4 linked regions of the Homo sapiens genome follow. The protein of the gene in region 1 interacts with the protein of each later gene in a pairwise test. Each region holds a gene or a part of one and is shown on either strand. Other genes may lie near its edges. The genes, in order: FAM163A, PECAM1, VIM and KIF1B.

Region 1 (7,553 bases):
AGTTCATCTCATACCCTGTACATGTCCCTTCCTGGCTTATGATTTTAAGGCCAGACCTAAACAGCCACAACATGTCGAGGCCCCCCAAAACCATGTTTGTGGGGTCTTTTCTAGTTCACAAAGAGCTCTCACACCCATCCCCCTCTTTCCTCACAGTCACACTTGAGAATTCAGAGGAAGAGAGGCAAGCCTTGGTTACGATTCCTCGCAATCCTACTGGCAAGGGAGACGTGAGAGGAATGTGAGAGCTGAGCGTTTTGTTCATCTTTGCTTTACAAGTGAGAAAGAAGGTCATTTTCCAATATGGGGTAGCTGCTCAGTGGCACAGGTGATCCTCGAACCTGGGCCTTGAGAACCCCAGCTCTGCCCACACTGCCATGCCCCCGATGTCCAGGCCATTGCCGTGCACAGCCTGCGTGGTCCTGAAAGAGGGGTGGTCCAGCACAGGGGCAGGGAGGAGGGAGGGCACTGTTCTTATACAGCTTCTCCATAATTCCCTGTCTCCTAAAATAGGCTTGGCACATCCTGGAACACTAGTCCAAGCCTGTCTGTGGGGTGGATCACTGCTGCCTCCCCAGCTTCAGGTCACTCCTAGACCTCTCTGTCCATAAGCAGCCCTCAGCGACGAATATGCAGGGAAGTGGTGAGGGGATGAAGTGGTGCTGTAGTGAAAGTGCCTAAGCCTTCCCCACGCTGAGATTCATCTGACCCCGCCTCCAGATGCCCCAAGAAACCCCTGAAGCATGGCCCGCCATGCACCTGGGCAAAATCAAAGTGGTCTCGAACAGTGACGCTCAAGTCTGCAGATGGGATTGAGCTGAGAGGTACAGCTTGCTGCCCCCTGGTGGTCTGTCAGAGTCATAACTGCCAGGGCTGTGACAAGCTAAACAGTGAGCTTTTATTAAGTACCCGGTATGTGTCAGGCATGGTGTATAAGGCTGCAGGGGATAGGAGACCGTGTAAGACACAACCCTTGATCCCAGAGGACTTATAATATAGTGGAGGAGTCAAGATGTTCCCACATGAAAAGTTGACTCTCATCCCACCAAGCGGGATTTGAAGAGCAAACCATGAAGGGCATTGCAATAGGAGCCCAGAAGTGAGAGAGCTTCAGGGCTGGGGCAGTCAGGGGAGGCTTCTCAGAACCTTGAAGGATGGGCAGGATTTAAACAGATGGAAAAAGAAAGGCCACACGCTCCCCTGTCAAAAGCCCCGTCAGGAAACCCCCAGGGTCTCCAAGAGAGTTCATCTGGATTCCTTGACCGGGTTGCAGCCTCTGCAGCTGCATGCCTGCCCTGGCCTGTCCCAGCCTCGCCAGATCCCTCGCAGTTCCTGGAACTGTTTTCTCACACCCCTGGACTGTTCATTCTGCCCTCCCCACCTTGTCTACTGGATAAGCTTTCACTCAGCTTTTAGGATTCAGCTCAATACAACACCTGCAGTGGAGCATCTCCCCTCAGTCAGTAGCTGCCCCACTCTAGGTTCCGCAACTCTAGTCTGCAATTCTGTGGCTGCGAGTCTCACACTGTATCCTAAGGTTTGCCCCGTATCTTTTCATCACTAGGCAATAAGCTGCTTAAGAACTGTAGGACTATGGCTCACACTTGTAATCCCAGCACTTTGGGAGGCCAAGGCGGGTGGATCACCCACCTTGGTGGGTGGTCAGGAGTTTGAGACCAGCCTGGCCAACATGGTGAAGCCCCGTTTCTACTGAAAATACAAAAATTAGCCCGGTGTGGGGTTGCACGTCTATAATCCCAGCTACTCGGGAGGCTGAGGCACGAGAATCACTGGAACCCAGCAGGCAGAGGTTGCAGTGAGCCAAGATTGTGCCACTGCACTCCAGACTGAGGGACAGAGTGAGACTCTGTCTCCAAAAAAAAGAACAGTGGGACTGCATGATGGGGCAGTGGATCACGTAAGCGGAAGAAAGGGAGGTGAGGAGGGAAAGATAAATAGGGTAAGTGTGCAGGAACGTGGGGGATGGCAATGTCTTTGAAGCTGTCTCTAAAAGTTTATGGGCAGATAAATGTATCCTGCAGGCAATGTGGTGCATGAGAGTCACAGAAAGGCCCAGGGGTATGAAGGAAGGCTTAACAGCTGGTGGCAGGAAGGGTACTCAGAGACAAAACTGGGAAGGTTTGTTAGGAAACCATTGTGCCAGTGCAGCTTGAGAGGTGATGAGTCTTCACTGGTGTGGGGGACAGAAGACTGGGGTAGCCAAAGAAGAATTTGAGGAGTTTAAATTCTGGGCAGCTAGGGGAACGTCCCATGGGCTTGTCAAACTCTAATGTGCAACCTACTCAATTGGGACCTTGTTAAAATGCAAACTCTGACTCATTAGGCCTGTGGGGGGCCTGAGATGCTATCTTTCTAATGGTGCTCCCAGGTGATGCCCACGCTGCTGGTCCACAGAGCGGGAGTGGATTTGGAGCCACACTGCCGGGCAGGTGCAGCCCTCTAAGAGGACAGTGGTGGACATGTGATATCTTTGGGTAAAGAGATAAAGGCACCCCCTTTTACCTGGTGAACACACCAGGGTGCATAGCTTTGTGAGCACAGTGCAGTTGGGTTCTAGCCCCCACTTGCCCTTTGAGTAATAAACAATTTGCAAAGCCCTTCGGGACAGCTCTGGTGGAGCCACCAACAGAGCCTCCAGACAGGTCGGAGGAGAGGAGTCCATTTGGAGAGCAGGGTGGTGACTTTAACCTGTCATAACTGAGTTTGAGATGACCACTGGGACATCCACTGAAATGTCTATCTACTAGCAGCTGGAGACCCAGCTGGAGACCTGGACTTGGGGTCTGTGGGCTCACTGATGATATGCCACACAGCGAAGAAAGCAAAATGAGGGTTGTCTGGGAATCATCTAACCCTTCTGGCCTTTTTCAGTGAGTAACTCTCTTCTTCCAACATCTCTGTCCTTTCTGTTGTCTTGCAGGTCGCCGTTCCCTTTACTGAATGTAAGTGATCGTAGTCATTTTTCCATCTCCAAGATGCCAACTTCCCATTCCCCACCCTCCTGCCCCTTGGTCCCAATGCACCTGGGAGGCTCAGAAATCCCCATTCACTGACCTAAAAGGAGAATCTGTCTGAAGCCATGACAGCCTCATGCCCAGAGCTTGCCTCTGTCCTGTTCATTCAGCCTCAGAAGCCAGGACCAGTCTCCCCAGCTTGGCCACAGCCTTCCAGGGCCCAGAATGCCACACACCACTCCCTCTGGGCTCGCCTTGCCTTTGTTTTCCAGGAGGGTTTGAAGGAGAAGAGAGATACCCCCAAAAGAAGTGCTGGTTTGAGCCAGAGAAGAGCCACCTGGTGTTTTCGAGATGTGGCCCTTTCCCCGCCAGCCCGGGCCAAAGGCTCAGGGACCACTGGGGTGTGTGCCAAGAGGGCGGGGATCAAGAGCACAGCCTTTGGGATGAACGGGCTGGGTGGAATCGCAGCCAAATTATTCGCAGCCCCGTTCAGCATGCGTGCGGTAGGGATAGCTAATAACTGCCCCGAAGGGTTATCGCGAGGATGTAGTAAGATGCGTGGGGGTGCTTAGCATGATGCCACACAGGGAGGAGCCCCGCAATCAGCGGCAGCTGTTCCTCTGTGTCTGCAGCCACGCAGAAGCGGGAGCTAAGAAGGGTGTGACGGGAGAGGAAAGGCGAGAAGAGCACCAAAGGGGAAAGATCGTGAGAACTTTTTGAAACTGGGTACTCAACTTCGCCCACTTAGGCTGGCCCAGTCTGGAGCCACAGTCGTCCTCAGCCTTCAGGAAACCCCTGGGGCCTGGCCCTCCCGGCACCTGCTGCTCTCAGGCCCCCTGCCCCAGCCTCGGGGCAGTTCCAGGAAGACTCCCCCCGGCCCAGCCCAGGGCTGCAGCCACAGCTGGTCCTCAGCCCTCCGCACATCTTTGCAGAGTTTGATGGGGCGCCGGGCGGATGACAGCGGGAACGGTTGTGATCACTGGCGGAATCCTAGCTACGGTGATCCTCCTCTGCATCATTGCCGTCCTGTGCTACTGCAGGCTCCAGGTCAGTCCCCGGGACCCGTAGCCAGAGGCTGCCAGGCCACCAGCAAACCTCTTTTTCATTATGGGGGCAGAAACTGGAGGCCGACTTCAGGGCCCACAGAGCCCAAAGCTATGGAATGTAGCAGGCGTAAGTCAAGGAGGATGGGAGTTGGGGCTGGTCGGAAGGGAGCTAAGTGCCCCCCAGCCTGCCCACTCAGAGCACACAGAAAGTGTGCTGGAAAGATACGGGGTCATTGGGTTGTGTCTCCTGCACCTCTGAGATTTCAGGAGCATGGGAAGAGCACCATTCTGGGGAGGCTCTGAAAGCTGCCGCCAGCAGCTCCAGCCCTGTCCTCAATATGATGTGTGTGTCCCTGCCCCGCTCAACTACAGCCTGGAGTTACTGCGAGGAGTGGTGGGAGGGGAAAAGGAAAGCAGTACTGGCCTTGCAAAGCTGGGATTAGAAACTTGTGGAGCAGGCCCCTGGGGTTCAGTGCCTGGCACTAGGTTCTCCATGGAGCAGGGGACAGGGGCACCTGTGCACGCTCAAAAATGCATGGGGCGGGGGGAGCATTCACCCTCTCAGGCATCCCTCTGCCCTTCCGCACAGTATTACTGCTGCAAGAAGAGCGGAACCGAGGTTGCAGACGAGGAGGAGGAGCGGGAGCACGACCTTCCCACGCATCCCAGAGGCCCCACCTGCAATGCCTGCAGCTCCCAAGCCCTGGACGGCAGAGGCAGCCTGGCGCCTCTCACCAGCGAGCCCTGCAGCCAGCCCTGTGGGGTGGCCGCGAGCCACTGCACTACCTGCTCCCCATACAGCTCCCCCTTTTACATACGGACGGCTGACATGGTGCCCAATGGGGGTGGAGGCGAGAGGCTCTCCTTTGCTCCCACATACTACAAAGAGGGGGGACCCCCATCCCTCAAATTGGCAGCACCCCAGAGTTACCCGGTGACCTGGCCAGGCTCTGGGCGTGAGGCCTTCACCAATCCAAGGGCTATTAGTACAGACGTGTAAATCCTTCCACCCCGACCCGCACACACACCCACACTGCTGCCCTGGCGGGGGCCATGGGGGTGATGAATGACCCTCCAACAGCCCCACATGGGTTGTTTCTGTTTCTTTGGCTTTTCTCGCTCCGCAGTGGAGGGTTTACTAGGATTTAAGCTTTTGAGTGCATTGAGAACCAAGACAGGGCCTGGCTCCAACTCTGTGGGCCAGAGGTGGGGGACTGCTAGGTCGAGTCTGCAGCTTCGCCAGTTTCTTGGTTGGGACACTCCTCTGGCAGCCCCAGCACCACCACAACCCCTTGCAGTGTGCCCCAGTCCCCTGGATTCGCTGGACTGCAAAAAGGAGCACCAGGGAAAGCTCAGCAAAGGCTCAGGAGGCCTCCCGGGTCCTCGGGAGATGAAGCATCCGTGCCTAGGAAAAGGGGACAGAGGGCAAGGAGAGAAGTGAGAGCTACAATTCCAGCATTGGAGAAGCGAGGGGCGGGGCGTCAACGGCACTGCTTCAGGACGCGCTTGCTGAAACGACTCCAACAGCTAGTTCACAGCCCAGCTTTGTACGTTGGTTACCATAGCTACTGCTGTCACTGTAGCTGCTCCCGTAGGGTCGTTGATTCCTGAACGTATCACATCTCACCTGCCCCCTTCCTCGTGGGACGTGTCAAGTTGACTTTAAAGCCTAAGGTGGCTTGTGGGGACTGCACCAGAAAGTGTCTAACCTTGTGTTCCCCGAAATCCTTTCTCTGACTTAGGAACCAGCGCCCCCTGCTGGAGAAGTTTTTTCATTTTGTTAGCCGACTTCTGGTAGCTTAGCAAAGAGACCAGCTGACTGTCTCTCGGCCCAGCCCACCACGCCGAGTAGCTTGTGTGGATGCAGTCCTGTGAGGGTGTGCATAACCGTTCCCAGGTGTACGCACGCGCGCGCGCGCGCACAGACACACACACACACACACACACACACACACACACACAGTAACCACGGGTAGGCACCAGGGGCTTTGTACATTCAGGAGCTGCAGAGAGGAAAGGTCTCCCATGTACCAGAGAAGGAAAAGTCTGATCCCGAAACAGCTTGAACGAAAGGTGGTTAACACGTGACCAATCCCCATGGCAGACAGCGGGCTGGTGAACAGGAAGAGCACAGAATCTCTGTGGGGCGATGCTGCAGCGGCTGAAACCACGTCAAGTCCCCCAGAGCCCGGCATTCTATGTAAGCATCCACCTGTGACGCCGTGGAGCAGGATCTTCATTCATCTCACCAGAGCAACAGCCCAGTCCTGAGGATGGGAGGGACGTGACTTAGCCTTGGGATTCCACGCTCGCCGCCCTCCCTTGGCCGCCCTACTCCCCAGTTTCCTGGCGATGAGCCATTTATTGTGTCTCACACCAGCCTCATTTCCAACTCCGACTTCCTACTTAGAATGTGGCAGTGGCTTTGTGAGTGAGAATCCTGATGAGTTTTCCAGTGGCCTCTGCAGAAGCTGGCCCCCTTCTAAGGGCATAGCTAACCCCCTTCCCACTCCTGAGTCACTGAATTCGAGGAGGGTGGGGCAGGGAAAGGGCTGGCCCCCCTGCTGAAATCTTGATTCTGCATTTGAGGAAGGTCAGGGTGCCGCTGGGGGAGCAGGGAGCGGGGAGGGAGGAAGAGGGGAATGCACATCTTTTGCGCCACTATTAAGGCACCTGTCACCTTACATCTCAATCTGGAATCAAAGTGCCCTGGGTTGAGAAGCAGACCTGGGCTCTGGTCACACTTTGGTCACTCATTAGCTCTAGGACCAGTCACTAATCTCTGAGACTCCATTTTCTCCAGGGAAACGAGGCTTGCCCAGATAGACTAACAACCCTTTAGTGCTCCAAGAAGTGAGAATTTCCGAAAAAGATCTGCCGGCCCAGAGCACTCCCTCTTGCCCTAATCCTGGCAGGGTCTGGATGTATTTACCCAACTCTGATCTTGCGTGCAGGGATGCTTGCTGATGGATGAAAGACCACAATAAAACAAGATTAGCAGCAAAACAATTTTAATTGTCAGTGAAAAGCAAACATGTTTGTCAGACTCTCCTGTGGAGTCATTTCAAATGGTAACTCTTCTCTTGTACCAGGAAGCAGCTGTAGGTGGGGTAATGGGATCTGTCTCCTGGTGCAGAGGGGCAGCTTATGGCGGCAGCAGCTTCAACAAGCCCGTCCCACGGCCAGCCCTAACTGGGCCAAGTGCAAGCTCCTGATGAGCTGCTGGGCCTGGCAGCGTTCCCCACTTCCTAGTGCCTTGCTCCCCTGGAATTCCACAGCCAATCAACCACAGCAGCCGTGTCCTCCTTGCCAGAAATAACATCATTCGTACGTCCTGCCTTTGTAAAAATCAAGACCCAGTTAACCATCACCCACTTCTTGCCCCTGATTGATGGGGTCCCTGAGTACAAGCGTCCTGTGCAATCCCCTCCCTCCTACCGCTTTCCTAGCTAAGCCCTGCTAGCCCCACAAATCAGAATCTGGGTTTGGGGTGCTGGAGAGATGGTGGGCCCCAGCTCTTCCCCACATAGCC
Region 2 (7,553 bases), on another chromosome or scaffold:
TTGGCCCTGCTTTGGTGCATATCTAGTATATGGACTTTGCATAAGCACCCACTACTTCTCTCGCTTTTTTTTTTTTTAGATGGAGTTTCGCTCTTGTTGCTCAGGCTGGAGTGCAATGGCGCAACTTGGCTCAGTGCAACCTCTGCTTCCTGGGTTCAAGCAATTCTCCTGCCTCAGCCTCCCGAGTGGCTGGGATTATAGGCGCACGCCACCATGCCCAGCTAATTTTTGTATTTTTAGTAGAGATGGGGTTTCACCATGTTGGCCAGGCTGGTCTTGAACTCCTGGCCTCAATGATTCACCGGCCTTGGCCTCCTAAAGTGCTGGGATTACAGGCATGAGCCACCGCACCTGGCCCCCTACTTCTCTTATTGTTCCCACAGTCCCTGGGCGTGAAAGAATGCCCCAAGCCCACATGATTTCTTCTCACAGCACAGCAACTTACCTATCACCTTCACCCTCAGAACCTCACTTAACATTTTGGCATGGGAATGGCAATTATCTGCAACACACTGGTATTCGACGTCTTCAGTGGGGTTGTCTTTGAATACCGCAGGATCATTTGAGTTCTTGGTACTATTCTCCAAAACTTTACTTGTTTTTAAAAGTTGGTAAGAAATAGGCAAAGTTCCACTGATCGATTCGCAACGGACTTCGATGGTCTGTCCTTTTATGACCTCAAACTGGGCATCATAAGAAATCCTGGGCTGGGAGAGCATTTCTAGAACAGAGGGAGAAACAATCCAAAAGGCACTGAAGGTAAAAGCAAAGCATCCAGCACAAGAGGTTCCTCCTCCAAAGCCTGAGCTTTGCTTTCTATCCCTGCTGTAATTTCAAATGCCTGCCTGCCTTATTTACCTTTATAGGACACCTATGAGACTGACAGGCTGTGTGTGTGTGTGTGTGTGTGTGTGTGTGTGTGTGGTGAGAAGGGAAAGGGAAAGAGAAGTACAATAAGCAAAACAGAGAATGACAGAAATTCAAGGAAAACATTACATCCCCAGAAATACATGTTCATATTTTACCATATCTCACACGCACATGCACACATAATATACTTTTCTTGTGTTGAGCAAAGACACAGAAAACATAGAAAAAGTACAACAAGTAGCCAACAAAATGTGTGTGTGTGTGTGTGTGTGTGTGTGTGTATTTGAGACAGGGTCTCACTCTATTACCCAGGCTGGAGTGCACTGGTGCGATGACAGCTCACTACAACCTCCCAGAATCAAGCAATCCTCCTACCTCAGCCTCCCGAGTAGCTGGGACTATAGGTGCACACCACACCTGGCTAATTCTTTATTTTTTGTAGAGACAGGGTCTCACTATGTGCTCAGGCTGGTCTTGAACTCCTGGACTCAAGTGATCCTCCCACATCAGCTGCCCAAAGTGCTGGGATTATAAGTATGAGCCACCACACCTGGCTGAGCATATATGTGTGTGTGTGTGTGTGTGTGTGTGTGTGTTCTGAGACCGAGTCTTGCTCTGTCACCCAGGCTGGAGTGCAATGGCGCAATCTCAGCTGACCACAACCTCCACCTCCTGGGTCCAAGGGATTCTCCTGCCTCAGCCTCCCGAGTAGCTGGGATTACAGGCATGTGCCACCACACCCGGCTAACTTTTGTATTTTTAGTAGAGAGGGGGTTTCACCATGTTGGCCAGGCTGGCCTCAAACTCCTGACCTCAGGTGATCCACCCACCTTGGCCTGCCAAATTGTTGGGATTACAGGTGTGAGCCACCAGGTCCAGCCAATATATATGTTTTTAAATTATTCTCAGCCAGTCACGGTGGCTCATGCCTGTAATCCCAGCACTTTGGGAGGCCGAGGTGGGCAGATCACCTGAGGTCAGGACTTTAAGACCAGCCTGACCAATGTAGAGAAACCCCGTCTCTACTGAAAATACAAAATTAGCTGGGCAAGGTGGCACATGCCTGTAATCCTAGCTACTCGGGAGGCTGAGGCAGGAGAATCGCTTGAACCCGGGAGGCAGAGGTTGCAGTGAGCCGAGATCATGTCATTGCACTCCAGCCTGGGTAACAAGAGCAAAACTCCATCTCAAAAAAAAAAAAAAAAAAAAAAGATAAAAAAAGTCTTCTTAGTGCTTCAGCCTCTTAACAGATAAGAATTATATTAGGTCATTATTTAGGCATTAGTTTATTTAAACCTTATACAATGAGATTTCCTCCTCCCAAGAACAAAAAATAAAATAAAACGTTATAACACACATTTGTCTCTTGCATTCCTGCCTTTTGAGTTAGGTGGTTAGAGCATTAAAAATAGGCTAAAATCCTGGTTCAGTTGAAGCTATAATAAAATCTTAGCTGGATAAAACACAGCCACAGGTTAAATGAAAGGATCGTGACTGAATAATATAGTGACAGTGACAACTTGACTGGAGTTCTATAATCAACCAGAATCTCGCCACCCAAAGTGTGGTCCAGAGACCAACAGCATCCACATCACCAAAATGCTAGTTAGAGATGCAGAACCTGGCCCCATCTGGGCCTAAAATACTGAATCATAACCTGTATTTTAACCAGGTCTTGCATGCACATTCAGGCCTGAGAAGCCCAGCTCCTGGTGGTCAAATACCTACATTCTGTCCACTGGAAGTCTTACCCTTTTGGGTTAGCCAGGATACAGATTTAAAAAATGGAATTTTGATATTCTTGGCCGGGTGTGGTGGCTCAGGCCTGTAATCCCAGGACTTTGGGAGGCTGAGGCAGGCAGATCACGAGGTCAGGAGATGGAGACCATCCTGGCTAACACGGTGAAACCCCATCTCTACTAAAAATACAAAAAAATATTATCCGGGCGTGGTTGCGGGTGCCTGTAGTCCCAGCTACTTGGGAGGCTGAGGCAGGAGAATGGCGTGAACCCAGGAGGCGGAGCTTGCAGTGAGCCCAGATTGTGCCACTGCACTCCAGCCTGGGTGACAGAGCGAGACTGCATCTCAAAAAAATAAATAAATAAATAAATAAAAGTAATAAAAATAAAAATACAAAAATTAGGCAGACATGGTGGTGGGCACCTGTAATCCCAGCTACTTGGGAGGCTGAGGCAGGAGATCACTTGAACCTAGGAGGCAGAGGTTGCAGTGAGCTATCGTGCCACTGCACTCTAGCCTGGGCGACACGTCTCAAAAAAAAAAAAAAGAAAAGTTTAACATTGACTAAGTAGTGTTTCCTTCCTGAACTTTTGGGTGGGTACTTGCTCCAGGAGGCAGAATCTTGCCAGAATCTTAGCAAGTCAGAGGCCACATCATCATCAGTGAATCAGTGTTCTGAGCAGGAATACCTCCTTGTTTCTTTGGCCTTTGATTTCGCACTTCTCTCCCTCTAGTTCTTACCCTGCCTGAGTCTGCTCAGACCGGAGAGGGCGGCAGCTGCAGATAAATTTCCTTTCTCCCATTCAACCCTGGATGTCCTCTGAGTCAGCAACAATATACTCACCACATACGACTATCTGGACTGTGTTGCTTTTCTTGACCACTTTGTCAATACCTGCAGTGCAGATATACGTCCCACTGTCCGACTTTGAGGCTATCTTGGTGAAATCTTGAGTCTGTGACACAATCGTATCTTCCTTCTGGATGGTGAAGTTGGCTGGAGGTGCTCCTGGGATGGAGCAGGACAGGTTCAGTCTTTCACCTTGGTCCAGATGTGTGAAGGAAGATTCCAGTTCGGGCTTGGAAAATAGTTCTGAAAAACAGTGAGTGGGAATGGAGCGAGATGTGTCTGGCCACCACCCTAAAGACCCTTCCTGGAGAGGCCCTTGGCTCAGGTGCTCTTGGCAGAACCAACTTCCAACTTCCAGCAAAAAGTTTTCCTTTGCTTCTCATGTACCTAACGATCACCCCAGTAAGGAGCTAGGGTTCATTCTTTGCCTAGGATTCCAATGGCAGGTTTTCCTTTCTTGTTAATCCAATTTATTTCAATGACAAGGATTAGAAAAGTTTTGCAACTTGTGGCCAGGTGTGGTGGCTCATGCCTGTAATCCCAGCACTTTGGGAGGCAGAGGTGGGTGGATCACCTGAGGTCAGGAGTTGAGACCAGCCTGGGCAACATGGTGAAACCCCATCTCTACTAAAAATATAAAATTAGCCAGCATGGTGGTGGGCGCCTGTAATCCCAGATACTTGGGAGGCTGAGGCAAGAGAATCCCTTGAACCCAGGAGACAGAGATTGCAGTGAGCCGAGATTGCTCCACTGCACTCCAGCCTGGGCAACAAGAATGAAACTCCTTAAGCTAGCAGAAGGCAAGAAATAACTAAAATCAGAGCAGAACTGAAGGAAATAGAGACACAAAAAACCCTTCAAAAAATTAATGAATCCAGGAGCTGGTTTTTTGAAAGGATCAACAAAATTGATAGACCGCTAGCAAGCCTAATAAAGAAAAAAAGAGAGAAGAATCAAATACACGCAATAAAAAATGATAAAGGGGATATCATCACCGATCCCACAGAAATACAAACTACCATCAGAGAATACTACAAACACCTCTAAGCAAATAAACTAGAAAATCTAGGAGAAATGGATAAATTCCTCAACACACACACTCTCCCAAGACTAAACCAGGAAGAAGTTGAATCTCTGAATAGACCAATAACGGGATCTGAAATTGTGGCAATAATCAATAGCTTACCAACCAAAAAGAGTCCAGGACCAGATGGATTCACAGCCGAATTCTACCAGAGGTACAAGGAGGAACTGGTACCATTCCTTCTGAAACTATTCCAGTCAATAGAAAAAGAGGGAATCCTCCCTCAGGATGATGAGGCCAGCATCATCCTGATACCAAAGCCGGGCAGAGATACAACCAAAAAAGAGAATTTTAGACCAATATCCTTGATGAACATTGATGCAAAAATCCTCAATAAAATACTGGCAAACCAAATCCAGCAGCACATCAAAAAGCTTATCCACCATGATCAAGTGGGCTTCATCCCTGGGATGCAAGGCTGGTTCAATATACACAAATCAATAAATGTAATCCAGCATATAAACAGAACCAAAGACAAAAACCACATGATTATCTCAATAGACGCAGAAAAGGCCTTTGACAAAATTCAACAACCCTTCATGATAAAAACTCTCAATAAATTAGGTATTGATGGGACGTATCTCAAAATAATAAGAGCTATCTATGACAAACCCACAGCCAATATCATACTGAATGGGCAAAAACTGGAAGCATTCCCTTTGAAAACTGGCACAAGACAGGGATGCCTTCTCTCACCACTCCTATTCAACATAGTGTTGGAAGTTCTGGCCAGGGCAATTAGGCAGGAGAAGGAAATAAAGGGTATTCAATTAGGAAAAGAGGAAGTCAAATTGTCCCTGTTTGCAGATGACATGATTGGATATCTAGAAAACCCCATTGTCTCAGCCCAAAATCTCCTTAAGCTGATAAGCAACTTCAGCAAAGTCTCAGGATACAAAATCAATGTACAAAAATCACAAGCATTCTTATACACCAATAACAGACAAACAGAGAGCCAAATCATGAGTGAACTCCCATTCACAATTGCTTCAAAGAGAATAAAACACCTAGGAATCCAACTTACAAGGGACATGAAGGACCTCTTCAAGGAAAACTACAAACCACTGCTCAATGAAATAAAAGAGGATACAAACAAATGGAAGAACATTCCATGGTCATGGGTAGGAAGAATCAATATCGTGAAAATGGCCATACTGCCCAAGGTAATTTATAGATTCAATGCCATCCCCATCAAGCTACCAATGACTTTCTTCACAGAATTGGAAAAAACTACTTTAAAGTTCATATGGAACCAAAAAAGAGCCCGCATCACCAAGTCAATCCTAAGCCAAAAGAACAAAGCTGGAGACATCACGCAACCTGACTTCAAACTATACTACAAGGCTACAGTAACCAAAACAGCATGGTACTGGTACCAAAACAGAGATATAGATCAATGGAACGGAACAGAGCCCTCAGGAATAACGCCGCATATCAACAACTATCTGATCTTTGACAAACCTGAGAAAAACAAGCAATGGGGAAAGGATTCCCTATTTAATAAATGGTGCTGGGAAAACTGGCTAGCCACATGTAGAAAGCTGAAACTGGATCCCTTCCTTACACCTTATACAAAAATTAATTCAAGATGGATTAAAGACTTAAACATTAGACCTAAAACCATAAAAACCCTAGAAGAAAACCTAGGCATTACCATTCAGGACATAGGCATGGGCAAGGACTTCATGTCTAAAACACCAAAAGCAATGGCAACAAAAGCCAAAATTGACAAATGGGCTCTAATTAAACTAAAGAGTTTCTGCACAGCAAAAGAAACTACCATCAGAGTGAACAGGCAACCTACAAAATGGGAGAAAATTTTTGCAACCTACTCATCTGACAAAGGGCTAATATCCAGAATCTACAATGAACTCAAACAAATTTACAAGAAAAAAACAAACAACCCCATCAAAAAGTGGGCGAAGGACATGAACAGACACTTCTCAAAAGAAGACATTTATACAGCCAAAAAACACATGAAAAAATGCTCACCATCACTGGCCATCAGAGAAATGCAAATCAAAACCGCTATGAGATACCATCTCACACCAGTTAGAATGGCGATCATTAAAAAGTCAGGAAACAACAGGTGCTGGAGAGGATGTGGAGAAACAGGAACACTTTTACACTGTTGGTGGGACTGTAAACTAGTTCAACCATTGTGGAAGTCAGTGTGGCGATTCCTCAGGGATCTAGAACTAGAAATACCATTTGACCCAGCCATCCCATTACTGGGTATATACCCAAAGGACTATAAATCATGCTGCTATAAAGACACATGCACACGTATGTTTATTGTGGCACTATTCACAATAGCAAAGACTTGGAACCAATCCAAATGTCCAACAATGATAGACCAGATTAAGAAAATGTGGCACATATACACCATGGAATACTATGCAGCCATAAAAAACGATGAGTTCATGTCCTTTGTAGGGACATGGATGAAATTGGAAATCATCATTCTCAGTAAACTATAGCAAGGACAAAAAACCAAACACCGCATCTTCTCACTCATAGGTGGGAATTGAACAATGAGAACACATGGACACAGGAAGGGGAACATCACACTCTGGGGACTGTAGTGGGGTGGGGGGAGGGGGGAGGGATAGCATTAGGAGATATACCTAATGCTAAATGACGAGTTAATGGGTGCGGTACACCAGCATGGCACATGTATACATATGTAACTAACCTGCACATTGTGCACATGTACCCTAAAACTTAAAGTATAATAATAATAAAAAAAGAGACTGAAACTCCATTTCAAAAAAAAAAAAAAAGCAACAAAAGAAAAGTTTTGCAGCTTGTAATGCAGCAAATAATGATTCATGCATTCACTCATGTATTTGTTCACTCACTCATTTCACCCCACAAGTATTTATTGCAGGTTCTCTCTGTGGCGGGCCCCTTGCTAGGCACTGAGAGATAGCAGTGAATAAGAAACAGTCTCTGACTTCAAAGTGCTTACATTTAGTGGTTGATTCAGATGCATTATTTGTCACAGAC
Region 3 (7,406 bases), on another chromosome or scaffold:
AATGATTTCTAAGCAGTTCCTTGGGACATAAAGAAAAATCTTTTAACTTTTTACTTTGTTTCCCAAATGTTGCACAGTTTTGCAACACATTGACCTTCTGGTTTCGAACGGTTACAATTTTAGATTGTGGTTTGCCAAAGTCAAGTTGCTTAATTTTTACAAGGCCACAAAAAGCGCAATTATGCCCTGCAGTTTAAAATGGAAAACGTGTTGGAAGATAAGAAAACTTAGTTTCCAACTGGAATGGAGCCAGCAAGTTTCTTTTCTTCTTTGCAAATTCTATTGTGTCATTAAAGTTCGATGGAAGTATCACTATGCACAACTATTTTGTGATCTAATAAGGGTGAAAAGGAGCCATCTGTCCCCTTGGCTAAGGGGTATTAATGGTTTCTATGGGCTTCACTATGGAATGTAGATACAGACATTCTGGCAAATGTGGTGGCTCTGGACAGAAATAATAGGAGTCTTTGTATTCCCAGGGAAGCTTTGCAACAGGCTACATTCTTACTGAATATGTAATGATGTAAGCACGGTTCTAATTGGACACAAGTATTTGCTAACATCCGTTATCTAATATCTGGCCCAGACTTGAGAAGTAGGTAATGTAAAAAGTTTTTAAAGCTACAAGCATACCTCACATTTTAAAAGTCCTTTCTTGATTGGGTTCTTGTGTTCTTTAGCACTCTTGCCATAAAAAATAATAACAGTAATAAACCCAAGGCTGAAAAACTGAATTTTAACTAAAGGGTTTTTGTGCGTGTTTTTTTTTTTTTTCACCAAAATTAGATGGACTTACAGAATTTTTAACTTAAAATTGGAATCCAAAAGCCAGAAGATCCCCATTATAGTTTATAGTTGTATTCCCTGGAATATTTACTGGGATTAACTGCAAAGCACTCTCAGATGAATAGTGTAGTATAACATTTTGAAACTGAAATACATTTACCAAATTAATTTAACCACAGCAATGTGTGTGGTTCATTTTAGTCCTTGAGCATTTTTGATTATCATACCTGTCATGTTTTCTGCAGTGTAGTGAGTTAACATAAAACAACATCAATACAAAAGATCCTCTGTTTCGAGATTAAGCAAAATTCCTCATTCTCTTCAATGTGATAGAATACCACATTGATCTTTCTTTGGAGGTTAGTAAAATATCTTTTATGTATTTTTCAGGGCTTAACAAGTAAAAATCAATGTTTTCATCAAGTCTGATCTTTTTGTCACCCACTCTTCATTCATTTTTCCACTAAGGTGATAGAAAAGTCTCAACAGTTTAAGACCGTAAGGCTATGAACTCCAAATATAATTGCTGACAAGATAAGCAATCCTCACGCATCCTTTTGAGAGGAAATAAAATCTTAGTTGCAAGATTACATATTCTGATTTGGAATGCTGAGCTTTTTAAATGGAAATATAGAAGGACGGCTGAATCAGCAAAAATCCTTTATGTAGTTTCATTCTTTGCAAGCTTGACCAGTCATTCTGAAACAGGCTAACTGAACTGATACAGTGGCAAGTGAAAAAGACATGCCTTTACAGGATGAGTCAAAGGAGTTTTAGAAGAAAAATCCACCAGAGAAAGCCAAGCAAATACAGTTCAGAGTTACATTTCTTTTCCATTTTTTCCTGAACTGAATCTTTGGCATGCATATCCTGAATTGGGTTATTGAATATAAATCTAGCCTTGTACAATGGATGCCAGATGACTACATATTTGCTTTGGAGCCTAAGGATAAGTTTCAAAAGATTTGAGTGGAGAAGAAAAGCTAAAACTCTTGAAGCACAAGTTTCTGTTCTCCATGTACTCAAGTGTACATGAAGTTGTGAAAATTTGTCCACCTCTATCATCATGTTATTCCATGAAATTACAAAACAAATCTTAAAAATGTTGTGGCATAGATTTTCTAGATTTAAAAAGTAATTAAATTAAATGAATTACTTTATTTTTTGAGACAGAGTGTCACTCTGTTGCCCAGGCTGGAGTGCAGTGGCACTATGTTGGCTCACTGCAACCTCTGCCTCCTGGGTTGAAGAAATTCTCCTGCCTCAACCTCCCAAGTAGCTGGGACTACAGGCATGTGCCACCACACCCAGCTAATTTTTGTATTTTTGGTAGAGACGGGGTTTCGCCATGTTGGCTAGGCTGGTCTCGAACTCCTGACCTCAAGTGATCCACCCGTCTCAGCCTCCCAAAGTGCTGGGATTACAGGCATAAGCCACCATGACCAGCCTTAAAAAGTAATTTTAAAATATCACTGGTAAAATGTGGATTCAGTCATGATTGAGTGCAGTTTACCATGTGTGTGGACATTTATTTATTTTAAAATTGTCTGATCACCACCTTGAGTAAAACACAAGCAGTCACAATTAAAATATATTAGTGAGCAGGAGAAAGCACAGCATATTATAGCACTGAATGATTTATAAACCTATTCCAGGGTCATAAAATGTGTCAACGGCTTTTCTATAGTAAGGAGACTAGGTTCAGATGGTTAATCTAAGACAAATAAATGAGATAAGCCATACACTTTTACATCCTCCATGTCCTGTCTTTTCTCTGTTCAAAATAGGATGTTGACAATGCGTCTCTGGCACGTCTTGACCTTGAACGCAAAGTGGAATCTTTGCAAGAAGAGATTGCCTTTTTGAAGAAACTCCACGAAGAGGTTAGTGGAGTGACTTTCGGGGAATGAATGAGGGTAAGGCAGCCCCCACGGTTGGCAGAGCTGACCGTCTGTCTGTTCTTTTTGCAGGAAATCCAGGAGCTGCAGGCTCAGATTCAGGAACAGCATGTCCAAATCGATGTGGATGTTTCCAAGCCTGACCTCACGGCTGCCCTGCGTGACGTACGTCAGCAATATGAAAGTGTGGCTGCCAAGAACCTGCAGGAGGCAGAAGAATGGTACAAATCCAAGGTAGGAAACAAATCAGTGCGGCTTCAACCAAAGAAAAGCATTGTGTTCTCAAAACCCCATACCTGTGTGTGATTCCTAAATATCCTCTAGCTCCAATGCAAAGCTGGCTTTGACTTCTTGCTCATATTGTGTTTGCCACCACAGCCTCCCCACCACTCACATCACCTCCTTTATTTATTTATTTATTTTCTTATTTATTTATGAGACAGAGTCTTGCTCTACTGCCCAGGCTGGAGTGCAGTGGCAACATCTTGGCACACTGCAACCTCCGCCTCCCAGGTTCAAGTGATTCTCCTGCCTCAGCCCCCTAAGAGCTGGAACCACAGGCAAGCACCACCATGCCCGGCTAATTTTTGTATTTTTAGTAGAGATGGGGTTTCACCATGTTGACCAGGCTTCTCTCAAACTCCTGACCTCAGGTGATCCACCCTCCTCAGCCTCCCAAAATGTTGGGATTACAGGCATGCGCCACCACGCCTGGCCACATCACCTCCTTCAGAATAGCAGACTCTCTTCCCCCTAACCTTGCCTCCAAGTAAACCCCAATGCCATACCTTTGACCTCCACTGTGTTGAAATGAGCACTGTAGAGTGAACTCTGAAAATACTAATGTCAGTACTCCACTGCTCTTTCCCTGGCTTTCAAAACAGAAATTTAAACCTATACTGGAAGACATTCAGTGAGAAATATGATTTTTTTTTTCTAAGAGAGTCAAAAGACTTGAATGTGAGCAATCTACATTTCTGTTTTCTTCCCAACAGTTTGCTGACCTCTCTGAGGCTGCCAACCGGAACAATGACGCCCTGCGCCAGGCAAAGCAGGAGTCCACTGAGTACCGGAGACAGGTGCAGTCCCTCACCTGTGAAGTGGATGCCCTTAAAGGAACCGTGAGTACCAACCCTGCAGTAAAAGAGGGAAAATAATGACCCATTCTGCTGACTAGGCTCATGATGATACCTGAACAAAATGTTGAGTGAGTAAAAATGTATATCATAATGCAAAGAAAATGAGTTATCAAGACAGACTCAAAAGGGACTTCATGGAACTCTTGAAGGTTTTAGCTTGCCTATATCATTGCTTCTAATATGAAGGACTTGGTACTCGCATTCTCCACCTAAAATTAGAGTGGTCGCCATTTGCCGCTAATGGAAATTATTGCAGAAGGTCTGTAAATGGTTCTGGGAACAGCTGGGTTTTTCTGAGAAATAACACCAGACATCTTTCTCACCCCCTGCAGAATGAGTCCCTGGAACGCCAGATGCGTGAAATGGAAGAGAACTTTGCCGTTGAAGCTGCTAACTACCAAGACACTATTGGCCGCCTGCAGGATGAGATTCAGAATATGAAGGAGGAAATGGCTCGTCACCTTCGTGAATACCAAGACCTGCTCAATGTTAAGATGGCCCTTGACATTGAGATTGCCACCTACAGGAAGCTGCTGGAAGGCGAGGAGAGCAGGTAGGGAACTCAGACTTGGATGCGTGAACTAATGGTGACCATTTGTTAGGCCCTGTGCCACTGGGCTCTAAGCAGTGTCACATTTAATCTTTAGAAAGTTTCTTTGAGGTAACTGCTTTCCACTTTTTGTAGAGGAGGAATTTGAATTGAGAGAGAGTAAGTGACTTGCTGAAAAAGGGTTAATCAACAGCAGAGCTGGGATTTGAACCCATAACTCTGTCAAAGCCTCCACTCCTAACTCCTGTTCATGCTCCTGTGGAGAAAATGCTTGTAGTAACATATTTTAAATGTACTAACAAGACCAGTCATGGGAAAATGTTTCTGAGACAAATCTCTAGTTTATGATTTAAAACAGTACGTTTTCTTACGTGACGAAAACAAAAAGTGTGTTAATTTGTTCCCAGTGGTTGAAGTTATTTGCCAACAATTTTACTGTTTCTCTTCATCTGTTTATAGGATTTCTCTGCCTCTTCCAAACTTTTCCTCCCTGAACCTGAGGGGTAAGCATTTTATTTCCCTTTAGGAAAAACGTCAGCTGCTTGTAACCACTGTGTTTATGTCAAAGCATTCATTTTTTTTAGGATATCTGAAAAAATGCCATATAAGAGAAAACTCTATAAAACATCTATAATTTTCGAACCCAAGTACACTCTTGCATTCTATGCTTTAAGTTAAATGCAAACTCCTTTTTCCTTCTTCCTGCTGCAAGTACTATCTCATCCTGATGCTCAAGAGTGTCAGGGCCTGGGTTTCCAAACAGAGACTACCCTAAAATTATTTGGCGAGTAGTACTTTACACAATTGCCTCTCCCCCACAAATCATAATTGTTTCAGTAAAATGGTTACTTGGTTTTTCCAAGAAAAAACTCGTTTTTACTCATTTTTGGCCTGTTTGTTTATTTAGAAACTAATCTGGATTCACTCCCTCTGGTTGATACCCACTCAAAAAGGACACTTCTGATTAAGACGGTTGAAACTAGAGATGGACAGGTTGGTATCTTTTAAGGAAAAAATAGGGTAATCTCAGACAGGAGTTGATATATTTTAAAATCAGTGAATCTGAATCTCAGATACAGCTGGCTAATTTGAGAGGTTCAGGTTTCATTCATGCCTACTAAAAAAAGAATAGGCTTCTTCTTCCAGCAGTACACACAGCCAACTAATTATTTGGCTCCTGGATGTGAAGTTGAGATAGCAGTCTTCCTGTGCTCCAGAATTAGTGATTTGCTTTGGTGCTTAATTTGAAGTGGGAGTAAGCTTCCTTAAACCACTTCCTAAAGCAGCTACATGAAACAGCTTCACTAGACTACCTCAATATGAGGAATGTTTTGATCCTGGACATATGGTGTCTTCCTACCTCCATACTTTATAGATTCCTAAACCCATCTATATAATACAAGCATGTGCCATACGATCATTTAGTTTCTTATTACCTCCCTATGCCAGGAAAGAAATAGTTGCAATTTATTGTAGTCATCATGAAATCTTCCCTTGCACATAAATTTAAAATGTACCTGCTGCACATTTTAATATGTCTTAATTGCTTTTAAACTTGGCTGTATTGTGTACAACTATTATACCATCTTTTATAAACACAGTTTTTTAAGAAATTTCTTTTTGTAAGTTACAACATTCCACTGGATCCTTATATTGCCTGTAGTGGAAGAGGGTCTTGTGTGTCTGCCCCTTCTAGTTTTCACTCATGCAGAAGCAACATAACCTTCTGATTTGCACAATAAATTACATATATTTAGCAGGATTTTTATTTGCCGTGATATATAGGATAATTTAGTCTTTGGCATGTGGCATTATATTTATTTTGGTTTTTTTTTTTAAACAGGTTATCAACGAAACTTCTCAGCATCACGATGACCTTGAATAAAAATTGCACACACTCAGTGCAGCAATATATTACCAGCAAGAATAAAAAAGAAATCCATATCTTAAAGAAACAGCTTTCAAGTGCCTTTCTGCAGTTTTTCAGGAGCGCAAGATAGATTTGGAATAGGAATAAGCTCTAGTTCTTAACAACCGACACTCCTACAAGATTTAGAAAAAAGTTTACAACATAATCTAGTTTACAGAAAAATCTTGTGCTAGAATACTTTTTAAAAGGTATTTTGAATACCATTAAAACTGCTTTTTTTTTTCCAGCAAGTATCCAACCAACTTGGTTCTGCTTCAATAAATCTTTGGAAAAACTCTTTTGTTGTGTTATTTATTGGATAATATCTAAACAATTCTCTACTTGGTCCTATTAGTTAATTTGTCATTACAATCATGTAAGTTGATAAATTCAGGTTATTTATGCTTGAGATGTAGTTCTTAATTTTGTCATTTTTGATAGACCTCACTTCTTTTTATTATTACTTAAAAACATTTACAAATAGGTGGTGTCGAATAAAATAACTTGTACCAAAATGAAGATAGGTCTCTCTAAAATGAGCTCAGGTCTGTGATTTTAATCATAACAAACAGACTTCCTAAAATTAAAAAATAAAAACTTTTTTTAGTACATATAGCATATGAGTAACACAAATTCCACTTTGGGAGTTAAAGCATAGGAAGTTGCCAAGATATAGGGGCTTATCTTCCGCTAGCAAGATGCAGAGAAATGGAAAAAGTTCACCAAGTTTTTCTTTTATTTAAGACAGGATCTCACTTTGTCACTCAAGCTGGAGTAAAGTGACTCAATCATAGTTCACTGCAGCCAACAACTCCTAGGCTCAGGCAATCCTCCCACCTCAGCCTCCTCAGTAGCTAGGAGTACTCAAAACAAATAAACGAATGTCTAACTTTAGCCTAAAATGTGAGTTGTCTTCCCAAAACTAGCCACACACCTGGCTAATTTTTTTAATTTTTTGTAGAGATGGGGTCTGGAAGTGTTGTCCAGCCTAGTCTGGAACTCTTGTGCTCAAGTGATCCTCCCTCGGCCTCCTAAAAAGCTGGGATTACAGGCATGAGCCACCACACTCAGCCTAGTTCACCAAGATTTAATATATGAAACCGTTCTGCTTTATTGTGTGTGTG
Region 4 (7,553 bases), about 170 Mb from region 1:
CCCAATCCAAGAATCAGACTATACACGAGTAGTCTCCTGACATATCAGATTTTTAATCTCCAATATGGCTAAACAGGCTCAGTCATGCTCCCCAAATGTTTTAACTACTATCTGGCTAGGCACAGTGGCACATGCCTGTAATCCCAGCACTCTGGGAGGCCAAGGTGGGTGGATCACTTGAGGTCAGGAGTTCAAGACCAGCCTGGCCAGCATGGTGAAACTCCGTCTCTATTAAAAGCACAAAAATCAGCTGGGCTTGGCGGCAGGCACCTGTAATCCCAGCTACTCAGGAAGCTGAGGCAGGAGAATAGCTTGAACCTGGGAGGCGGAGGTTGCAGTGAGCCAAGATGATACCATTGCGCTACAGCCTGGGCGACATGAGCAAAACTCTGTCTCAAAAAAGAAAAGAAACAAAGAAAAGGGGTCTCACTTTTTCACCGCCCAGGTTGGAGTGAGTGGTGTGATTGAAGCTCATGGCAGCCTCAAAACTCCTTGGCTGTACCTCAGCCTCAGGAGTAGCTGGGTACTATAGGCATGCATCACTGCCCTGTTTATTTTTTATTTTATTTTGTAAAGGTATTTGAAGAACATTTCTTCCTTTTACTTAAAGAAGCTGTTGAAAACATTTAGTACATATCTATCTATCTATCTATCTATCTATCTATCTATCTATCTATCATCTATCTATCTATCTATCTATCTATTGAAACAGGGTCTCACTCTGTTGCCCAGGCTGGAGTACAGTGGAACAATCACAGTTCACTGCAGCCTCAATCTCCCAGGCTCAAGCAATCCTCCTCCCTCAGCCTCTGGAGTTATTGGGACTACAGGCACATGCCACCACACCTACCTAATTTTTTTTTTTTTTTTTGAGACGGAGTTTCGCTTTTGTTGCCCAGGCTGGAGTGCAATGGCTCGCGATCTCGGCTCACCGTAACCTCCACCTCCCGGGTTCAAGTGATTCTCCTACTTCAGCCTCCCGAGTAGCTGGGATTACAGGCATGTGCCACCACACCCAACTAATTTTGTATTTTTAGTAGAGACGGAGTTTCTCCATGTTGGTCAGGCTGGTCTCGAACTCTTGACCTCAGGTGATCCGCCTGCCTCAGCCTCCCAAAGTGCTGGGATTACAAGCATGAACCACCGCGCCCATCCACTAAATTTATCTTTAATAGAGATGAGATCCTGCTTCACTGCCCAGGCTGATACCGAACTATTGGGCGCAAGCAATCCTCTCACCTAGGCCTCCCAAAGTGCTGGGATTACAGGTGTGAGCCACTGTCCCCAGCCCTAGTAAGTCTTTATTTTTTATTTTTTTGAGGTGAGTTTCACTCTTGTTGCCCAGGCTGGAGTGCAATGGCACGATCTCAGCTTACAACAACCTCTGCCTCCTGAGTTCAAGTGATTCTCCTGCCTCAGCCTCCCGAGTAGCTGGGATTACAGGCATGCACCACCACACTCAGCTGATTTTTTTGTATTTTTAGTAGAGATGGGGTTCTCCATGTTGGTCAGGCTAGTCTCAAACTCCCGACCTCAGGTGATCCGCCTGCCTCGGCCTCCCGAAGTGCTGGGATTACAGGCGTGAGCCATAAGGCCTGGCCTATTTTTTACTTTTAAGATGGAGTTTTGCTCTTGTTGCCCAAGCTGGAGTGCAATGGCATGATCTCGGCTCACTGCAACCTCCGCCTCCCAGGTTCAAGTGATTCTCTTGCCTCAGTCTCCCAAGTAGCTGGGATTACAGGCATGCACCACCATGCCCGGCTAAATTTGTATTTTTAGTAGAGATGGGGTTTCTCCATGTTGGTTAGGCTGGTCTCAAACTCCCAACCTCAGTGATGCACCAGCCTCGGCCTCCCAAAGTGCTGGGATTACAGGCATGAGCCACCGCGCCCGGCCGTACGTATCTTTATATCAGGATGTTTATAACAATTTTCTCTTAGAACATCTTTAGAATTTAATACTAGGAAAAAAGGTTTCTCTCGACAAACTATTAGGCTTTCTTTTACCAGAGTGAAAATTGTACAATTTATCTTTCCCTTTTTGCATTAAATTCCATGTTTCCAAATTAAATTACAATAACCACATTAGCCGAGGCAACCTATACATTTAGTTTTTCTTGTTACATAAATTTTTACTTATTTATATTTTAATAGCTTCACTGTATATATTTGTGGTAAGCTGCTCAAATCCTTTCTAGAAGTAGTAACTGGTATAAATTATAAATAAATAAAAACTTCCTGTAATAGCCTATTCTGCTATTTAACACTGTAAATATGTTGTGTAGTCAAAGTTCTAGTTCCTAAAAACAAATAAAACCAAACGACACAGCAAGCTTTTAAAAGTTACATAAAGATCGGCTGGGCATCGTGGCTCACGCGTATAATCCCAACACTTTGGGAGGCCAAGGCGGGTGGATCACTTGAGGTCAGGAGTTCAAGACCAGCCTGGCCAACATGATGAAACGCTGTCTCTACTAAAAATACAAAAATTAGCTGGGTGTGATGGCACATGACTGTAATCCCAGCTACTCGGGAGGCTGAGGCAGGAGAATCACTTGAACCCGGGAGATGAAGGTTGCAGTGAGCCAAGGTCACACCACTGCACTCTAGCCTGGATGACAGAGCGAGACTCTGTCTCAAAAAAAAAAAAAGTTGCACAAAGATTTATGTTGAATGAATTTAATAGCCATGTGAGTAGCCAGAAAAACAGCAGTTTCAGAAGACTGAAACCAGCCCACAAACAGAAGTAGCCAAAAGTTCAAGGAAGAAAAAAACAAAATGAGTAACATACTTAGTACTGCAAAAGTGTGAAGTGTGCCTCCTGGTTTCAGCAATAAAGGCTGGAAACCACAGCAAGGGCAGTATCCATGAAGTGGGGGGCAGGAGGGGACACTGAAGCCAGCCTGTAGTGGGTTGGCACGGAAGTGGGAAATGCCAGTATCCATGACACTGTCAGAGCCTGGCTATGATGAGCAGGAGAGAGCAAATAGGAATGAAGGATTTTATTGGAAGGAACAGAAACGAAGGAGGGATTTTCCTCCCCCCAGCCCTTTATTTGTAATAGGAAAGACTTGCACATTTCTATACTTTATTCAATAGCTATTTACTGGGTGCCTACAATGCAACAGGCAGTTCCTGGGAAAAATAATCCGTGAACAAAAAAGATAAACAAACCTCCTTGTCATGGAGGAATTTACATTCTAGTAGGGAGAGGGAGGACATTAAAATTAATAAATCAGGTATAGAGAATCGAGAATGTAATCAGCATCACGGGGGAGTACAGCAAAGTCAGGGGGTTCAAGATTGTGGTGGTGGGAAGGATTGCTGTGCAGGTGCATAAATGAGGTCAGGGTGGGCCTGCTGATGTGCTGAGATTTAAGCAAAGACTTGAAAGAGGTAAAGGAGTTAGCCAAGCAGATTTCAGGGGAAAAGTATTCCAGGCAGAAGAAAGAGTAAGAGCAGCTGGGTGCGGTGGCTCACGCCTGTAACCTCAGCACTCTGGGAGGCTGAGGCAGGTGGATCACCTGAGGCCAGAAGTTCAAGACCAGCCTGGCCAACATGGTGAAACACCGTCTCTACTAAAAATACAAAATTAGCTGGGCTTGGTGGTGGGTGCCTATAATCCCAGCTGCTCAGGTGGCCGAGGCAGGAGAATTGCTTGAACCCAGGAGATTGTGCCTCTGCACCCCAGCCTGGGAGACACAGCAAGGCTGTCTCAAAAAAAAAAAAAAAAGAAAAAGAAAGAGTAAGAGCAAGTGCCCTATGGTAGGACTATGCCTGGTGTGTTCAAGAACAGTAGAAAAGGCTGGGCACAATGGGTCACGCCCGTAATCCCAACATTTTGGAAGGCAGAGGCGGGCGGATCACCTGAGGTCAGGAGTTTGAGACCAGCCTGGCCAACACGGTGAAACCCCATCTCTACTAAAAATACAAAAATTAGCTGGGCGTGGTGGCACACGTTTGTAATCCCAGCTACTTGGGAGGCTGAGGCAGGAGAATCACTTGAATCCGGGAGGCAGAGGTTGTAGTGAGCCAAGATCAGGCCACTGCACTCCAGTCTTGGTGACAGAACAAGACTCTGTCTCAAAAAAAAAAAAAAAAAAAAAAAAAAAAAAAAAAGAAAATGGGCAAGTACTGCAGGGAAAAGAAGAGTAACCAATACTGCGAGTTCCTACAGATTAGAACAGTGCTATCCCTAACAGAGGCCAAGACAGAGTAACCTCTTTCTCACACTGGGGGAAAGAACAGAAGAAAGAGGGCAGAGAAGTTTGTAAGTAGAGGAAGGGAAAGCTCAGGGAGTTCATGCCCTTTTTTCCTATGAGGTGGCAGGCAAGGTATTCTGCCAAGCATGGGGCAGTGACAGGTTTGAGTCAAGGGGTCCAGATTTTATAATAGCAACTGTGGAGAAATGGGGAGGGAGCTAAGCAGAACTGCTCCGACAGGGACCAAAGACAGATTTAAGGGAGACCTCGGACTACACATTAATTGTGGCACTAATCCCCAGCACTATGCAGGTTTCTCCATGACACGGAGTAAGAATGGAGGGTATGGATGGTAGGGATGATGTGAGGCTGGCTTCTGCATAGTAAGTCCTGAAGAATAATAAGAAAGAATAAAAACTGCAAGCAATGCAACCCAGAGGTCGTAGTATAGAAAAGGAAGGAAAAGAAGTAAAATCTGGAAGAGGCCGACGGTTTAGGAGACTTAGAGTGGGAGAACACACATAAAGTGATTATGAAAGTGAAAGCTATCAATTATCACAGTTTAAGACTTGAAGGTGAATTTGAGACCTTAACATGATGACAAGTTAAAAATGTGGCCATAACACTAAACAACTGGAACAGAATGAAGCCAATGTTTGCTTGAGCTCAATTCAAGAAATTTCACAGTTAACGGTAGTTACAAAGGAAACTCAGCATAGTGGTTACTTACTAGTACTTATGATTTTGGGGAAGTCACTTGGCCTGTTTTAGTTTCATCTGTAAAATGGGAATAACAGTATTTATTTCATATGGCTGCTATTAGGGTTAAATTAGTTAATAAACGTAAAGTGCTTAGAAAAAAGCCTGGCACACAGAAAGTGCTCAATATGAATAAGCTATTTTATCACTATTGTTGTTTCTGTTATTGTTTATTTACATAGTCATTGACATCTGCCAAGATGATGTCAAAAATCTGGATGAAAGAGAGAACTAAGCCAACAATATAGTAATCCAAAAGAGCAATGGGGCTGGGCACAGGGGCTCATGCCTTTAATCCTCCCACTTTGGAAGACTGAGGTGGATCACTTGAGCTCAGGAGTTCAAGACCAGGCTGGGCAATAGGCAATATAGTGAGACCTCCATCTCTACAAAAATTTAAAAATTAGCTGGGCATGGTAGCGCATGCCTGTGATCCCAGCTACTCAGGAGACTGAGATAGGAGGACCACTTGAGCCCAGGAGGTCAAGGCTGCAGTGAGCCATGACTGCGCCACTGCACTCCAGCCTGGGCAATAGAGTAAGAGCCTGTCTCAAGGGGAAAAAAACGGGCAATGGTAGAGGGTAGTATGGTTGAATGATATGCTTTGGTATAAACAATGTGATATTAAATACAAAAAATAGGCCGGGCACAGTGGCTCATGCCTGTAATCCCAGCACTTTGGGAGGCCAAGGTGGGTGGATCACCTGAGGTCGGGAGTTCGAGACCAGCCTGACCAACATGGAGAAACCCCTACTTTACTAAAAATACAAAATTAGCTGGGCGTGGTGGCACAGGCCTGTAATCCCAGCTACTAGGGAGGCTGAGGCAGGAGAACCGCTTGAACCTGGGAGGTGGAGGTTACGGTGAGCCGAGATCGCGCCGTTGCACTCCAGCCTGGGCAACAAGAGTGAAACTCCGTCTCAAAAAAAAAAAAAAAAAAAAATATATATATATATATATATATATATATATATATAAAATATATAAATTTTTAAATCCATCAAACATTTACAAGCTTGTGACTTCAAACACTATACAAAAAACCACAAGACAAATGTAAAAGTACCAATTGAGTATTAGATAATAAGTACAGTATTATGTACATACAACATTACAAAGAATTTTGAAAATGCTCTGACTGGAAATCACGGAAACCATATCAGGATACTAAATTGTACTAAAATGAAAAGGAGTTGGAGTTAACTTTATCTCACCATTTCTATATAGAAATGGTAGCCCAGGTGCAGTAGCTCATGCCTGTAATCCCAACACTTTGGGAGGCTGAGGTGGGTGGATCACAAGGTCAGGAGTTCGAGATCAGCCTGGCCAATACGGTGAAACCCCGTCTCTACTAAAAATACAAAAATTAGCTGGGCATGGTGGTGTGCACCTGTAGTCCCAGCTGCTCGGGAGGCTGAGGCAGGAGAATCACTTGAACCCAGGAGGTGGAGGTTGCAGTGAGCCAAGATCACACCACTACACTCCAGCCTGAGTGACAGAGTAAGACTCCATCCCAAAAAAAAAAAAGGGCAGGGCACGGTGGCTCATGCCTGTAATCCCAGCACTTTGGGAGGCCAAGGCAGGCGGATCAGAAGGTCAGGAGTTCGAGACCTGCCTGGCCAACATGGTGAAACCCCATCTCTACTAAAAATACAAAAATTAGCTGGGCATGGTGGCAGGTGCCTGTAATCCCAGCTACTTGGGAGGCTGAGGCAGGAGAATCATTTGAACCCGGGAGGCGGAGGTTGCAGTGAGCTGAGATCACACCAATGCACTCCAGCCTGGGTGACAGGGCGAGACTCTGTCTTAAAAAAAAAAAAGAAAGAAAGAAAGAAAGAAGTGGTAAAGTGTGAGTTCCTGGAAGGTAAAGAACTAAATCTCTACATGCACCCTCAGTTAATGGGTAATGCCTATAGTAAAAGAGCATCAATGAATCAGTGGCCCGTTAACCAAACAGTTCAACTCTGAGAAGTCCAAGGCATCTTTTTATTTTTAGCAGGCAAAGTCTGAGCCCAGAGTGGAGTGCAATGGCGCTGTCTTAGCTCACTGTAATCTCAAACTCAAGCCATCCTCCCCACTCAGCCTCCGAAGCACTAGGACTACAAACACACACCACCCACATCCAGATTTTTTTTTTTTTGGTAGAGATGGGGGTCCTGCTATGTTGTCCAAGCTTGTCTCAAACTCTTGATGTGAAGCAATCCTCCCGCCTCAGCCTCCCAAAGCACTGGGATTACAGATGTGAGCCACTGCATCCGGCCCAAGGCACCTTTTGCAGGTTTTTCCTACCACAGTCACATCTGTTTAATTTCTCTTCTATCCTGACAAGCTGCACAAAAAAAGTTCAAGAAGTATGCATATTTATTCACACTGTTTCACAGAATCCAGATATTCACCAGTACCTGTTCAAACGAGGCCATCTTTCAAAGAGAAATACATGAAATAGACATAAAATAACTTCAGAGCATTATGAAATTATATCATGTTAGTTTACAAGACCAAAAGGATATGCTTCCTCCTGGAAAAGATCTACTATGATTAGCAGCCTGGGAAGGGGATTACAAACAGGAAGGCAGGGGGCCCATTGTCCTTT

Evidence for each region.
Region 2: the proteins of FAM163A (region 1) and PECAM1 interact in binary tests that used the Homo sapiens proteins (3 or more experiments, as listed by UniProt).
Region 3: the proteins of FAM163A (region 1) and VIM interact in binary tests that used the Homo sapiens proteins (3 or more experiments, as listed by UniProt).
Region 4: the proteins of FAM163A (region 1) and KIF1B interact in binary tests that used the Homo sapiens proteins (3 or more experiments, as listed by UniProt).

What each region holds. Positions count from the first base shown.
Region 1 is NC_000001.11:179,809,169-179,816,721, forward strand, and holds the end of FAM163A (protein FAM163A), read left to right. Parts: intron 1-156; exon of another isoform or gene 157-278; intron 279-513; exon of another isoform or gene 514-765; intron 766-2,941; 5' UTR 2,942-2,963; intron 2,964-3,607; exon of another isoform or gene 3,608-3,907; 5' UTR 3,908-3,929; coding exon 3,930-4,022; intron 4,023-4,610; coding exon 4,611-5,021; 3' UTR 5,022-7,030; downstream 7,031-7,553.
Region 2 is NC_000017.11:64,359,695-64,367,247, forward strand, and holds part of PECAM1 (platelet endothelial cell adhesion molecule precursor), read right to left. Parts: intron 3,704-7,553; coding exon 3,455-3,703; intron 722-3,454; coding exon 446-721; intron 1-445. UniProt on the Homo sapiens protein: Cell adhesion molecule which is required for leukocyte transendothelial migration (TEM) under most inflammatory conditions.
Region 3 is NC_000010.11:17,231,014-17,238,419, forward strand, and holds the end of VIM (vimentin), read left to right. Parts: intron 1-2,573; coding exon 2,574-2,669; intron 2,670-2,756; coding exon 2,757-2,918; intron 2,919-3,679; coding exon 3,680-3,805; intron 3,806-4,155; coding exon 4,156-4,376; intron 4,377-4,832; coding exon 4,833-4,876; intron 4,877-5,280; coding exon 5,281-5,366; intron 5,367-6,216; coding exon 6,217-6,258; 3' UTR 6,259-6,580; downstream 6,581-7,406. UniProt on the Homo sapiens protein: Vimentins are class-III intermediate filaments found in various non-epithelial cells, especially mesenchymal cells. Vimentin is attached to the nucleus, endoplasmic reticulum, and mitochondria, either laterally or terminally.
Region 4 is NC_000001.11:10,213,523-10,221,075, reverse strand, and holds part of KIF1B (kinesin-like protein KIF1B), read right to left. Parts: intron 1-7,553. UniProt on the Homo sapiens protein: Has a plus-end-directed microtubule motor activity and functions as a motor for transport of vesicles and organelles along microtubules.